Homo sapiens: one gene and its partner. The protein of the gene in region 2 interacts with the protein of the main gene of each other region in a pairwise test. Each region holds a gene or a part of one and is shown on either strand. Other genes may lie near its edges.

Region 1 (8,149 bases), on a different chromosome or scaffold from region 2:
ACTTTCAATAATAGAATCATTCTTACAAAGTGAAAAAAGAAAACAGTATGTGTGTGTAATGCCATATTCACGAGAAGGGTCAACAGCCCCAAGAAGCTCTGTTTATGAGCAATATTAACACCAAATGGAGAGCTTAGCAATGTCTGTTTCTAAAAATAAACCCTGTGTGTCTCTTGTTGTCATCATCAACCAGAGTCCTGTGTGCTCTGAGACAGCATCAAGGCCGCCTCTTTGCCTTTCCATAAGCATGATACATCATTACCAGAGCTCTCCCTTTTCTCTCAAGGTGGCAGAGATAAAAAGAATTCTGCAATCACCCTAAGCACACATTTAAACAACATTATTGCCCCTTAAGCAGACAGTTATCATGCTATTTTGGCAGCAGGAAGGAATCTGTGGTTTCACTTGAATGTTATTCTTCTTTATTTAAACTACTAGAAATAACCCAAAAATGACAGAATGCTCTTTCTATAAATAATCATTCCAGTGTAGAGTTATATTAGGAGGTAACTCATATGGCATGATAACGCCTAACAAGCTAATCTTAGACCTGCGATGCCATAAGATAGAAATACCGAGGCTAAGAATAACTGACCCAAAGGAGTCAGGCTGCTAAAGAGAGGCACAGACATGTGGACATCTGCAGGTTTTAATGCATTTAATGATCTTCTGAAAGCTTCTTTCCCCTAGGAAGGCAATAAATTATGTCAATCATTAACGTGATAATCAATAATGCTTTTACAATGTATTGATTCCTGAAGATGGCTCAAGATTCTCATAGCAAATAAGATCATAAAAATTACCTGTTGGAAAGCCAAGAGTGGGCTTTTGCATAATTGGATTAGTAGGTAATGGGTGAATTTTACGCTTAAGCCACCTACAGAACATATGACATTCATCCAATAAAGCAAAATTAACTCAAGATAAAGTAAAACGTAGTATGATGATAATACATATAAACACAGCCATCCAGTTTTCACCTAAATTGTCCAAACTGGACCCAAATTGGACAGATATATATTCAAAATAAGTAGAAACTGAATTATGTTAGCTAGATCTTTATTGTGGCTAGAGAATTTCACATTGCAAGTTGAAATTAGGATTTGAGTGGTGATATAGGCTTTATTAACCTTACATTTCAAGGTAAATGCCAAGGTGAGTATAATTCAAACCTTTTGGTCAAAATAAATGAACCCCATAATGCTAACATTTCAAAAAAAATTACTTTCTCCTGCCAAAATACATTAATAATAATTTGCTATTTTGAAGCGGGGCTAACTTTACCCTCATGATCTGTGTATCATGAACACTGGCAAACAGGTGCCAAATGCATCAGGAATGCTGCTTCTGTCCAGAGCATCTGCTCCAAGGAAAAGAGCACGCTCATAGAAGCTTGGTTTCCTTAAGCTCCTCTCAGCCCTGGATAGTGCTAACTTCCTCGAATTTAATTATCTAGCACTGAGAACATGAAGTAAGGATCTTCCAGCAAAACTTTCAACATGCTTGCCTATTTGTGCCTTAAACCTCCCAGGATTAAGAAGTCTGTCTAGGTATTTGTTTATACATATATAAATGTGTCCACATTTTTAGTACCAAGCAGAATTATCCTATGCTAAATATTTTTTGAGAAAAAGGGGCAGGACCCTGCCATTTAAACACGACCCTGCCATTTCCTACCTACAGTAACCATCAGTAAATTTCTTATCTCTCTGAATATATTTCCTCAACTGTAAAACACCAATATTGCTGCAACAACTACTGCATTATTAAACTGTGGTGAGGATTAAATGATCAAGTGATACACAGAGAAACTTTTGAAACATTAGCCATTGTGTCAATAATAAAAGAATGACATAAAAATTTTTGAAAAAAATATGCTTACAATCACTGACCTCTAAAATTGGAACTAGGCTGGGCGCAGCGGCTCATGCCTATAATTCCAGCAGTTTGGGAGGCCAAGGCGGGCAGATCACTTGAGGTCAGGAGTTCGAGACCAGCCTGGCCAATATGGCGAAACCCCATCTCTACTAAAACTACAAAAATTAGTCAGGCATGGTGGCACATGCCTGTAATCCCAGCTACTTGGGAGGCTGAGGCAGGACAATCACTTGAACCAGAAGGTGGAGGTTGCAGTGAGCCAAGATCATACCACTGCACTCCTGCCTGGATGACAGAGTGAGACTTTGTCTCAAAAAACAGAACAAAACAAAATAAAATAAAATTGGAACTAAGCAACTAGAAGATCAGAGAGGAGTATGACAGAAAAAAACAAAAACGGGTGGTGATAACTTTCTAACTTAAAATGGATAGTTCCTAATGTAAAAATCATGTACTTAAAATACACCCTTGAATTTTGATTATGAGATTTCAAAAGCATCATCAAGAATAAAGTTAAAACAGTGCTTAACACAAGAGCTTTTTCTTATTCACCCTACATGGGGTTCCCTGAAAACCTTCTGGGTAAACACATTTTTACTAAAGCAAGAACTCCCAAGCTATGATGTCATTTAATGAAAACTCAGTGAAATTTACTTATTTTTTGTTTTCTGGATTTTGGGGGGTTTATTTTGTTTTTAATATCAAGTTTCAAATTTTGAAACAACTTCATGACATTCTCATTTGAAAATGTCATGCCTTAGACATTCACCAAAATGTACCTCAAGCAAATTGAAAATAACATCCACATGGCTGCAACTGGGTCAATAATGAACATACATTATGAATTTAAAAGTTTCTGATACAAGTGGTGAACCATAAGGAGAAGCAGGAAAATAAAGTCGTGGGTATTTCCAACCTTATCAGCATGCAAAAAGTTTAATCATAAGCAAATGACTAGTTACACTCTGTGGTTTGGTAAATTTCTTTCTTCCTTAAAAGTGGTTTTCATTGGATTTAATTAATGGGTATTTAAGAAACACTGTACACGAAAAGCCCATCACTTATTTTACTATGGAAAAGTTAACATTATGATAATGAATGGAAAATATATTCTTATAAAAACACAAGAAGTATTTATTCTTATATTCATGAATCATAGCAACTCAGAGTAAACCTAAACATAACGTTCTCTGATAACACTTGAAAGTGTAGGTCGTTTAGTATTGTGAAAAATGTTGTTTAAATTAAATTTGTTTTGTGCAACCAACTTAGTTGAAGAAGAATGGAACTAGGAACACCAGGCATTTCCTCTTTCTTTGCTTCCTTATTGCCAACTTACTGGGAAAAGAAAAGGGGAAAACTGCCAACAGGAAGGACACCACATATCCCAAGCTAACCACTCACTTCAGCTTCCTTTCAAAAACAGGGGGGACCATGGCACAGCCAACACTCATTTGAGGCAGAGGCCAACATATTTTTGAATTTCTTCTTGAAAGCTTCTTTTCTAAAGTCATTTGCATGAGCTTTTATTTCAATTAAATTATTTTCAAAGCATTCAAATTCAGAAAAAAAATGTTAAAATGTAGTGCTTATCATTCCATATTGTAAAAATTGTTCATGATTCTTAAAATGTAATACTTGTGACAACCTACTGGCGAACACATTCTGAGTATTTTTAAGATAATCCTCCTTTCATATATTGAAAACAATTCATATATTATTATATTTCTCAAAAAAAATTTTGTGTGCCTCGAAGCCAACATTAAAGGAATACTCTATTCACGTTTATAATAAATGCTTGTAAGGCATGAGGCCACAATGTTGACTCTCCTTCCTTCAGAAAACATGATTAATAGCTTAGAGAGATCCAGTTTCTTCTACAATTACTTCAGTCTCTTTATTAGGGGGCTTCTTCTAACAATAGACAGTACTAAGAAAGGCAATCTATTCAATATTAATAAAAAACTTATATTCAATACTAGTAAAAAATACTTACATTAGTATTTAAACAGATATATTATCTTCATGAAAAGAAAGTCAACACCCATAGTTCAACTGAAAGGGAAATTATAAACATAGTCCATTTACTTTATTATATTTGTGGAAACTAAAAAGTAAATAAAATTGCAAAGAAGAAACTTCTTATCACCAATATCCACGTTGTAGCAAATACTGCTAGTGCCTAGCTAACATCTATTCCTCCTGCTTCTTGGTTCTTCCCAATAGAAACTTGAGCAGGTTTAGGTATCCTGCCTTCCCAGCTCAGTCATGGGTCCCACTCCTCTGAAAAACAAGTGAAAGAATAGGCAGGTGATGCTATTCTAGTCAATATAGAATAAAGGATGATCTGCTGGAGAAGTCTGGGTAAGATTTCTTTCCTTTAAAAGAGACGCCAAGACAGCAGTTTCCCCTCTTTGTCTCTGGAGTTTGTCGTGCATAAATAACATGATGCTTGAAACTGCTACGAGTCAACTTGTGACCATTGGAGGATCCAACCTTTGTCTCTGCAATTTGTTATGCATAAACATACATAATGCTTGGAACTGCTACAAGTCAGTTTGTGACCATTGGAGGATCCAATCTTAGGATCACACCAACCAAGGCTAAGACCAGCAGAGTGGAGCTATATGAAGGACCTGAATGCTGCTGCCATTTTTGACTACCTGGTGCTGCCTAACCACCCAACTACTTTATCACATGATAAATGTCCTACTTGTCTGTCATTTTGACTAGAGTGTTCTTTTATCTGCAGGAGAAAACAACCTAACTAATATACCTACTACTTACAATTAATCACTGTTAGTATTTTGACATGGTAGCTTTGTGTGGGGGTGTGTAATGAACACTTCTCATAGAATACATGCCTATTATAAAAAATCATACACTGTAAAGAGGTATGATGCTGAAAGAAAAAGCCCCTCCTCTTCACCAAACACAGCACAGCATCTTTCCTTATTTCTTCCTATCTTTATATGAATTCTTCAGGAGATGGATGGATAGATTTAAAAAATTATAAAAATAAGAACATATCACTGATGTTATATTTATTTTTAAAAACTGAAATTAAACTTAACTGAATTTAAATTTAAACTTAACTGAATTAAGCAGATTTAAAACTGCAGTTGAAGGAACTATAAATGTACTAAATACTTCCTTAACGTAAGAGATACTATTTCCAAAAAGACCTCTTTAAGGTTAAATAAACTATTTTTAAAAATCAGTGCTTTGAATCTTTTTTTTAAGTATGTGTTTCTATTTTAAGCAGCAGGGAGTCTGTCCCTGCTCAGAAAGGGAAGGATATTAGCATTTCTCACATCCTTCCATCTCACCTCTCTCTAACACCTCACACTGGCCAGCTTTATTAATATTTTTACATTCCCCTACTTTATAATATCTGTTTTCTGCCCTATAAACACAATCCAATAGTTGTTTAAATGCATTCAGTGTTCCCTCGTTACTTTGATAATGTTTTCTCTACTTCTGAATTTAGTTTTTTGTTTGTTTTAAGTTCATCTCTTCACTGTGTGGCTTTCACTGTCAAGCAGCCTCTTTCATGTTTGAGAATTTCTACTTTGTCTAACTGTTTTCCTTTTTCATTTACTCTGATTTTTTTCAAACCTTTCATCTTTATGTGTAAAGATTTTTACCTGGGCCTATTCTGTTTTCTTCTATTTCTAATGAATATTTTTTTCTATAATCATTATGATTTTCCATTCTTGATTCATTTCCTGAGATCTATATCTCCTTTCTCATCTCATTCTCTTGTTTATCATCTCACCTTTCAGCTTTTTTTAATATAAAATTTATGTAAGGTGCTCTATTTGTAGGAAGCAATACTAAGACGTCTAATTCCATGGGTTCAATGAGTTGATGTTTTTCTTCTTGGCAGAATCTCTAAGTTTAGTTGGTGAAAGGTACGTCATTCCAAAGAGCTATGGATCGATCTTTCTCCCAATTTAGTACGCTGCTCTGAAGCCTTCATTTCTACTATTTCTCAGCCACAAGAGAAAACAAGAACAACCCAAAATGGTGAGGATACCTACTCAGTTTTCTTCTCTTCAGATTTGGGAATCTTAGTGAGAATCCTCAGGAACTGGTCAACTTGCCAGTAAAATTCTAAGACAGCCCAGGAGACAGGTCTCTCTGTTATGATCAAAGAACCTCTGCATCCATTTTTGCCTTGGCTGTTAGCCTCTGAGGTATGTTGCATTAGGTTATATCATTTTCTTTGCTCAGTTACTGTTGAATATATTGGGTGACAGGGATGGAAGGTATGTTTGCTGGCTGACATGCTATTTTGGGCTCACTTCATTATTTATCAGTAGTGAGAAATTATGAGGCACATTTTAAAATTGCTCATCTCCAAAATTAAAATCATCATTTAGAATATTTTTTGAATTCAGAATTTGGATTTATTTCAGTCTTCCAAGGGGTTTTATTGGATTTTCTTACTTAACGGACATAACAATAATTATGCCTCCTGTGTCATCCTTAGAAATATGAAATACTCATTCTTGTCTCCATTCTCAATGAGCCCATTTATAATTATATTTCTGATTGATACCTATCATCTATCTCAATTGATAACAGACTTGCAAGTGAAGATAACCTGAGTTAGAGAATGGCAAAACAGTAATTATGGGGAATACCAGAAGTGATTCTTGACATGACAGGAACATTTCACAGACTTACATTTTCATAATTAGATTCTGCTTTTCAAGTAGACATAAGTGACGTGACTACTGAATCTAAAATGTTCCCTTCCCCTCAACACCATACACTAAGGAACAAAAGGATTCAAAAAAGGGTGAAGATATATAAAAGAATTTCAGGACTTTGATTTAAATGTTTTTCTTTTATACCCTAAAGTAAGAATAGATGGCCAAAATATGAGCTTTCCTTATTGTAAATATATCTTACATTACTTCTGTACAAACTCTAGGAAATTCCTTCATAATAATTGTTCCAATATTGTCTGGACAGCTCTGCTGCCCAACGTGTTAAGCAACATGCTTGGCAATGGGAGAACACCCCTAATCCTGCCAGCTCCTGCAGAGTGACCTGAGTCAATATTTGTACATGCTTCACTTTCTGCCACAGTTATCACTTACCCTGGCCCACACAAGCCACAAAAGTAGGGATGTACTTGACAAAATGTGTCACTCACACTGAATTCTAAGATTTAATATTATAGAACTTTAAACTAAAATATATTAGTACAATATTATAGAACCTGGTTCTACCAAACATGTTTAGCCTGGCCGAGTCAATATCAAAAAAACATACAACCATAAAAAAAACTTGTATTCCAATAGTATATAAAGAGCTCTGTACAAAAACCATCAATATTAGTGCATAATATCCAATATAACTAGAACAACAAATGGGAACTCTAATGCAATTGCTAAAGAAATTACACAACATAACCAATGTTTTAAAAATAATCTCATGAAATCTGCGATTGGGGTTCACTGTTCAATCACATACTGTGCAACTTCTTTGCCTTTATTACATAATGAGACATTTCAGAGAACACACACACACACACACACACATACACACCCTACTCTTACCTATAGTGATAGTCTGCATAGGAAAGATCTCAACTCTTATCAAACCAAGGTAACAAAATAAATAGTTGATTTATAAGATAACTAAGGCAAACTGATTATCAAAACAAACAATCATTTCCCCCATGTGACCTACAATGTAACTCATGTGGCTTGTTCAGCAAGATAGAACATGGCATTGAAAACCAAGATCTTAGGTTCATTCACTAAAAACAACAATTCTAATAGTGAGTATACGTTTTAAAGACATATTGATACATCTGAACCTCACAAGAATGCTAAGAGGCAAGCAGGAGGACATCATTATTCTTCAGTTTGAAGATGAGTAAAAAAATCAGTACACAATCGGCTAGCAGTGGAGCTCATGCTAGAATACAGAGTGTCTGACTCCTAGAACAGTGCTCTCTCCACTCCTTTGCACTGCTGCCAGGCATCCTTTCTCTCTTTCAAATCCAAAGACTCTGCTTCTAAGCCTATGAATCACGTCCAGACCACTGGTCCAAAAGGGAGCTGAACAAGATTTGTAGCTAAATTAAGACAAACATACCCCTAATTTAGCAGTTAGCTCAAAGGACAAACCCTACTGATAGTGGTTCACCAGCATCACCATCTGTTCCCTAGCCCTACAGCAGTGAATCTCAGTTTGCTGAAGGTTAAGGTGGGGAGATTTTAAAAACCTCAATCCCCAGGCTGTTCCCCAT
Region 2 (8,149 bases):
GACACTGACAGAGGGTAGGACTCCTGGTGGTTGTTCTCCTGGTGCGGCCTGGGTCCCTGAGCTCTCTCAGCCGGGGAGAGGCGGCGGATCATGTTGTCCAGGGGGGACCGGAGGGGCCGCTGCTCGGGGTCAGGAGAAGGCCGGTGATTTGTCGTGATAGGTGACCTGGAGCGGTGCAACAGTTCAATGGTGGGAGGGTTATGGTGCACATTATCCACGGATGGCCTGGGGGTCCTCTGGACACAGTTATCTGTGGAGCAGAGGGAAAGACAATCACAGACCCCAGTGAGTTGGCAGGACAGGAAACTCCCTGCGGCTCTACAGGCGGTAAATGGAGGAGCGTGTAGGTATGTGTAAAGGACCTTTCTCCCCAGAATGCAGTGTCTTTTTCACTGCTTAACAATTTGAAGGGTGCATATTTTTTTTTTTTTTCTGTTTGAGATGGAGTCTCACTCTGTTGCCCAGGCTGGAGTGCAGTGGCACGATCTCGGCTCACTGCAAGCTCTGCCTCCCGGGTTCATGCCATTCTCCGGCCTCAGCCTCCCGAGTAGCTGGGACTACAGGCGCCCACCACCATGCTCGGCTAATTTTTTTTATTTTTAGTAGAGATGGGGTTTCACCGTGTTAGCCAGGATGGTCTGGGTCTCCTGACCTCGTGCTCTGCCTGCCTCAGCCTCCCAAAGTGCTGGGATTACAGGCGTGAGCCACCGCGCCTGGCCTTAAGGTGTGCATATTGAAACTATTTTTCTATTGCCAGACAACCTAAGGATGTCTACAAGCATTCCGTTAATGACCTACCTGTGGCCTGTAGGCACAAGGAAGCCAAACTTCCATGCCCCATCTTTTGGCCATCATTTAACTCTTCTACGTCGCTTTCAGAGGTGGAAGGGTTCTTACAGGTTTCTCTCTAGATGCTTTCATTGACTTACATTTTCACAACTAAAATTTTCATATTCTCTAACTCTAGGAGTTATTAGTATTAGTGATAATGTTAATAATATTAGTAATAATTATTAGTAATAACTATATCTTAGATGCTGGATTTCACTGTTTAAAACTTATAGCACTCCTGGCTGGGTGCGGTGGCTCCCGCCTGTAATCCCAGTTACTCGGGAGGCTGAGACATGAGAATCGCTTGAACCCAGGAGGTGGAGGTTGCAGCGAGCCAAGATCACACCATTGCACTCCAGCCTGGGTGACAGAGCAAAACTTTGTCTCAAAAAAAAAAAAAAAAAGAAGAAAAAAGAAAAAAACCCCCAACCTTATGACACTCATGACACTCCTAACCAAGAGATACCACTAGTACCCCTATTTTACAGATGATAAAACTGAGGCGTAAAGAAGTTAAATAACTTACCCAAGGTCACACAGCCAGTTAGGAGATTATAGAACCAGACTCCAGTCAGATTCTAGAACCTGTGTACTCATGACAACATCTGTCACTGCAATATAGAAACTATGACACAAAGTCACACCAAAACCTGCTCTAAGCATGCACAGTGGCCCCAATTTACAGAATGACAATCTTACTGAACTTGAAAGAACTTTTGGGAGCACTTTGCTCCTGAGTGCTCAGAGACAGGCAGAAGTAAGGAAGAAGCAGGATGGATGGACACCTCTAACTCATCCCACTCAAAGTTGCAAGCTGGTGACATGTGAGCGAGGATAACATCAGAAGTGTACACAGCTCAGCAAGAGAAGTAGCTCTGAGGGCTGGGTCGGGGAATGGACCGGCACACACCTGGCTCCAGAAGTCCCTGCTAAGGTGCAGAAGGACAGAAATCTGCCCATAAAAATGGGGATTTCTACACGGCTCCACACCCAACTCAATGAACTCTCTCTGGCCACATCTGTTCCCAGGGCAGTCTCACCAAAAGGATGTGCATGCTTGCTGTCCTTGTTCTGGTCAAAGAATTGTCCACAGTTCTAAGTAAAGCAAGTCAAACATATCACCTTTGTCCATTAAGATAATATACATATATGAAGAACACATAAAGTGAATTCCGTAATTTGATAGGGTCAGTAAACAGAGACAGACATAGTGGTTTTAAGTTTTACACAGGGTTAAGAAGAAAATGCGGACTTTTTTCTTTTTTGAAAGTTCTACTAGATCTCATCTATCATATGATCACTGAACAAAAATATTGTTCACAATATTAAAAGATCATCTCCTTGAAGGCAAAGGGCTTATTTTGTGACTACTGTATAACCCACTGCCATAAATTCAAGTGCCTCATCATTGGAATAGCTATCAATAGAAGACTGATTTAATAAATTATAGTATATATCTCTAAAAAATGGAGTACTACGTAAAAGTAAAAAGGAATGAGGAGTATCTTGATATTTTGCTAAGGACTAGCATCAGAATCTATGGTTAGATACGAAAAGCAAGATGAAGTATTTATGATCTGCCACCACTTATCTAAACAAGGAAAGGGGCAATTTCAGTTCAACAATAGCAGAGTGGCGTGTACCAAACTAACCTTCTTACGGGTAGAAATGAAAGAAACCATATTAAATACATTGAAAAAACTATTTGAAGGTATCAAGGGCAGACAAAAACCGGAGAGGATTTCACTCTTGAAAGAAGGGAACTGCACAGAGTGAGGTCCATATTTAAACAGCTTTCCCCCTGATTCTGTTGATCTCCTAACTGCCCTATGCTGCATGTTCCTCCCCAGTCCGTGCAGCACAGGGGCAGTTAGAAGATAAACAGAAAGTTGCTTGAGATAGAGTAGGTAGCTGCCAGAATGGCAGAAAATTGAAGAAACAAATCCCATACAGTGGGAGCCACAGAGGGGAGAGTGATTAAATTGGCATGTAAAAGCTTCCTCAAATTCTTGTCTGATTACCGAATAGCCCAAGTGCCAGGGAGACCCTTTGGAGTTCAGTGAAAAGCAACAGTTGTATAATCAAAAGATCTAAGCGGAAACCTCAGCTACTGGCTACTGCAGTGGAGACAGAGTTCAGAGTTTGAGTCTCATCAAGTTCAAAGGCTCTGTAAACACTTCAGGCTGTTTGTTACCCCAGAATGGCCACAATGTAGGAGTAAAAACCCTAGGACAAGGGGATCTGCTAAGGGCAAAAGGCAAAATAGAAACAGATTGGACCTAATGAAACGTAAGACCATGCCTCTACAGATTCAAAGTAACTGGCCAGTAATTTGATTGCCTCCTAGAACAAAAGTCAATACTCTTCAGTGGAATAGAACACAATCCAGTGTCTCAATGTGCTCAGCATCCAGTCACAATTTTCTAGATATGAGAAGAAATACAAACATGTGACTCATAATAAGGAGGAAAGGCCATCAAAAGAAACAGAACCTGAGATAATGCAGATGTTGGAGTTAACACAAACAAACAGAAAAACTTTACAGCAGCTATTATAAATAAGTTCAAGCCCTAAAAGAAAATCATGGTTGTAATAAATGATGACACATACAGGCTGCCAAAAGGGAAATGGAATTAAAAAAAAAGGCAAAATAAAGATTCTATAACTGAAAAGTATAATATCTGAAATGAAAGACCGGACTAGATGGACTTAATAGCAGAACGGAGATGAGAGAAGAAAGGGTTAGAAAATTTGAAGACAGATCAGTAAAAATGAAATCCAAACAAAACAAATCCTCAGTGACCTGTGGAACAATATCACGTGGTCTAACACACATGTAATTGGTGTCCAAGAAGGAGAATATAGAAAAAAACAGAGTAGAATAAATTAAAAAATAATGGCTAGATTGTCCTCAAATTTGGTAACAACATTATCAACAACAGTAAATTCGAAGGTCCAAGAATCTCAAGTAAGATATGTAAAATAAAAACCACACCCAGGTACACCATAGTCAAACTGCTGAAAACCAAAAATAAAGAGAAAATCTTGAAAGCAACCAGAGGAAAAAAAGAAACTATGTACAGGGGGAGATTATACTAATATACTATATATGCATAGTATGATATATAGTATATATATACACACACACCATATATACTATATATGATTATAGTATATATGATATATAGTATATACTAATACTATATAAGTATATACTTACATAGTATATATAAGCCTACGCTAATATATATAATATATTATATATACGAATATACTAATTATGGCTGACTTCTTTAAAAAAACCTGAAGAGAGGGACTGCTCAAACACACACACAAGAAGGTTGCAGATGGGAACCTATAGGTTGAAAAAAACTTAAGAGATACGTTAACCATCTGCAATGTATAGATGTTGTTTGGATTCTGATCCAAACTGTAAAAAACATTTATGAGATGGTTGGCAAAAAGTGAACACTAGCAGATTATTTGATGATACCGAGGAACTACTAGTTTTCAAGTGATATGATGGTTCTATTATGATTTTATAGTCTTTTTTTGAGACCTATGTTGACACTATTTTTTTTTTTTTTTTTTTGAGACGGAGTCTCGCTCTTTCACCCAGGCTGGAGTGCAGTGGCGTGATCTCTGCTCACTGCAAGCTCCACCTCCCGGGTTCACGCCATTCTCCTGCCTCAGCCTCCTGAGTAGCTGGGACTACAGGTGCCCGCCACCATGCCTGGCTAATTTTTTGTAGTTTTAGTAAAGACAGGGTTTCACCATGTTAGCCAGGATGGTCTCGATCTCCTGACCTCATGATCCGCCCACCTCAGCCTCCCAAAGTGCTGGGATTACAGGCATGAGCCACCGCGCCCAGCCTGTTGATACTATTTACAAGGGAAATTATATATCTGAGATTTGCTGTAAAATAATCTGGGATGGTGAAGGAGAGAGGAGGTAGACCACAGAGGAAGACATGATTGGCCTTGAGTTGATCATCAAAACTGGTGATGGGTACATGGTGATTCATTACACAATTCTCTTTACTTTTGTATAGGTTTGATATTTCCTGTTATAAAAAGCTTTTTTTTTTTTAAAGTGCTTAATTAACCTTGCAAGGATATAGGTTGGAAAGACAAGCACTAACTTCCTCACTTTAACCCAAATGCATAGAAATGCTTACTGGGCACCAACTAAAATGATCTGTAATCTTTTGTAGACAAGGCAAACTTTCCTTTTATAGATAATATGGATGTCAATTCTGCTGCCCATAGAAATGTATTTATCTTTTGTCCCTGGTCCACTTTTCATTTGTCACAGAATATGATCACTGTAAACAACTATTGAAGACAGTTCCAGTTTGAACTTTCCTATATTTTCTTCTAAATGCCATTTACAGAATGTCTCTCTTTACTTAAAAGCTTATTAAGGCTTAAAAATACTTAAGGATGATGAAGACCATGTATTGAAAAATCCCATTTCCTGAATCCATTTCCCATCTTATAAATTTCAAAACGGTCACAGGCGTTGGTCAGTAATCTGGTTACCTGCAGGCTTTCTTTGATGTCCTGGGCTTCAAGGCTTAGTGTGTGGGTGTGCACTCAGGGCAGGCCTTAGGAAGTCTGGGAGGACCAGGAGAGGAAGAACTTTCATGCCAAGGGTAAAGGAGGAACTGATGTAATGTCCTGGAGAGATTTCACTCTCCGTTCCTGCCCAGACCTTGGGAACAATGCAGGAGGGTGATAGTGCTTTGGATAATCCAACTCAGATTTTACTTTGGACTCAGGATCCAGGCAGGAACAGGACTTGGAGGAGCTTGATTTATTTATTTCTCCACAGATATCACTCAAAGAGGAAGTACTTGATGAAGCTGATAACATTAACAGTAGAGAACTGGATCCGAGGGTATTTAATTCCAGGCTCCTGGTGGTCTGGGCACAACCACTGTCAAGGCTGAGAGGCCTGCAATGAGACCCTGCAAGCTTTGTTTCAGTCTGCAAAGCAGTGCCCATGTATGGAGTAGGCTATGACATTCTCAGCCTGCTGCCTGCCGCCTCTGTTATTATAAGTTGGCAGCAGGGCATGGAAACTTACGAGACCAGAGCCGGCAGGCAGAGAAGCTCCGGACACAGGAAATGCACTGAGCGGACAGTGGGTGCATTAAATCCCCCAGATGTAGGAGTCTTCTGTCTAAAACAAGAAGATTTTTTTGGTCTGGCCTTGATGTCTGGGTTTGTTCTTGGTGAGCTGCCCAGCTGGAAAACTGGGAAATTATCCACATTGCCCTCATTCTGAAGGTCTTGATATGGAAGGGAAATATACAAGGAAGAGGGAGGGAAAGCCAGACATAATTAGTCCATGTGGGCACAGAAGGAAGGGAGGAAGAAAGACCAAGGACTGGCAGGGAACCGTCATTCTGGTTGGAAGTGTTTTCTGATCCCAAACCTTTTTCCTTGTAGACCTCTGTCAGACACAAATAATCCCTTCTTCTCACTGCCAAACGGCCTAAAATAAACCAGGACTTTAAGTGGGGTAATTTTCTTTACAAAAAGGTCTGATTTCTTATCCTTTCCTCTTATTAGAAAAGTTTCTCTACTTACAATTCATAAAAATTTGACCCAATTTAACCATGCTATAAATAATAAATAACCAGTAAACCTAAACAAACAGACAAAAAACTGCCTTTAGTGAAAGTTTTGACCGATAAGTTTCCAGGGAGAGCAAAGGCTAAGATCAAGTTTGCATCTCACACACCAGGATCACATTTCCACCACCGTGCTTTCCCTAAGCCCACGGATGCTGGTCAGAGAAGAAGGTCACCAGGGAGACGCAAATCAACAGGCCCAGGAGGTAATGCTCACTCAAGCCTCAGTCCACTGGGTTTCACTTTCTCCCTCTCCCAGTCATTTTGTTAAAAATTAGTGGGAAGTATGAATGATACACAGAGCTAGACAGAAGTCATAAGCTCAAGGTCTTGAGGTGGAATTCAAACTATATTTCATATACCACTCCCGGTCTCTTATGCCCATTATGGGTTGACTATCTCTCCCCCAAAATTCATAAGTTGAAGTCCTAACCCCTAGTACCCTCAGGATGTGATCTTATTTGGAAAGACGGTCCTTGCAGATGTAATTAGTTAGGATGAGGTCATTTTAAACATCCAATATGACTGGTGTCTTTATAAAAAGTATACTCTGGACTTCCAGACATACACAGGGGAAGAATGCAGGTGAAGATGAAGGCAGAGACCTCCAAGGCAAGGAATGCCAAAGCTTGCCAGCAAACCACCAGAAACGAGAAGAGAGTCATGGAACAGATCCTACCTCACAGCTCTCTCAGAAGGAACCAACTCTGGCACACGTTGACCTTGGACTTCTAGCCCCCAGAAAAGTGAGATAATAAATATCTGTTGTTTAAGCCACCCCGTTTGGGGTACTTTGTTACAGCGGCCCTAGCTAACTAATACACCCCCTACTCCAGTTACCTGACGTTCAACCTTTGCTTGGTTTGGAGTCTTTCCACTAACTGTGTACCTGGCATTTCAGCCTATTCATCCCCACAATGTGCCAATGTCACCGAACTCCCTTGGAGGGCCTGAGAAGAAAACTGCCCTAGTTTGGAGTGGATGATTCACATATGTTTGAGGTTATCAACAATAAACCCTAGGTAAGCTCCTAGAATTTTATAAGCATTTGATGAAAGGGGCTAAACAAAACAAAATGGGTAACCTGTAGTACTCTGAGGCTTAATCTTCATTACTGCAGGCCTGGGCAGGACTGCTTTCAAACAGGCCACCTTTCCAGGGGATCAGTACAGAGAGTACATGCACATCTGCTGACACAGGAGGCCTCACAGTCCTCACAGTCGGGGCTGCAGACTGTCTTGCTCTTCACAGGCAGTATAGGGGAGTCTCCTTTGTCTCCATAAAGCAGCACAAAAGAAGTGAATTAAAAAATCAAAGGATTGGATTTCCAATAAGTCAATTAGGTCTGTTTGGGTAATCCTCTCAATCATGTATAAGGCCTGGGGTCACAGGTGGCACAGAGATAAGGCAGAGAGGCCCTGGAGTGGGGAAAAGAGCAAGATGACCCCTTAACTGAGGGCTTCCTTCTCTGGAGATGAAATCAAACTGCTCCCAGCCCCTTATCTCAAAGATCAGATGGCATTTCCCTAGGGGTAAAGGAAGTCTCTTGGAGACTTCCTGCCTGTCTTGTGAGAGTCATTCATGCATATTAGGGATCTCTTGCCCCTAAAACTTCTGGCTTAAGAGAGCACGCTAGCCCTAGGGCTAAAAGCAGCCTCCAGTTGGAGGACCCTGGTGCAG

The links. Proteins that work in one complex are often made in the same cells at the same time.
Region 1: the proteins of ETV6 (region 2) and HDAC9 interact in binary tests that used the Homo sapiens proteins (3 or more experiments, as listed by UniProt).

Annotation. Positions count from the first base shown.
Region 1 is NC_000007.14:18,498,365-18,506,513, reverse strand, and holds part of HDAC9 (histone deacetylase 9), read right to left. Parts: intron 3,934-8,149; exon of another isoform or gene 3,875-3,933; intron 1-3,874. UniProt on the Homo sapiens protein: Responsible for the deacetylation of lysine residues on the N-terminal part of the core histones (H2A, H2B, H3 and H4).
Region 2 is NC_000012.12:11,861,525-11,869,673, reverse strand, and holds part of ETV6 (transcription factor ETV6), read right to left. Parts: intron 251-8,149; coding exon 1-250. UniProt on the Homo sapiens protein: Transcriptional repressor; binds to the DNA sequence 5'-CCGGAAGT-3'. Plays a role in hematopoiesis and malignant transformation.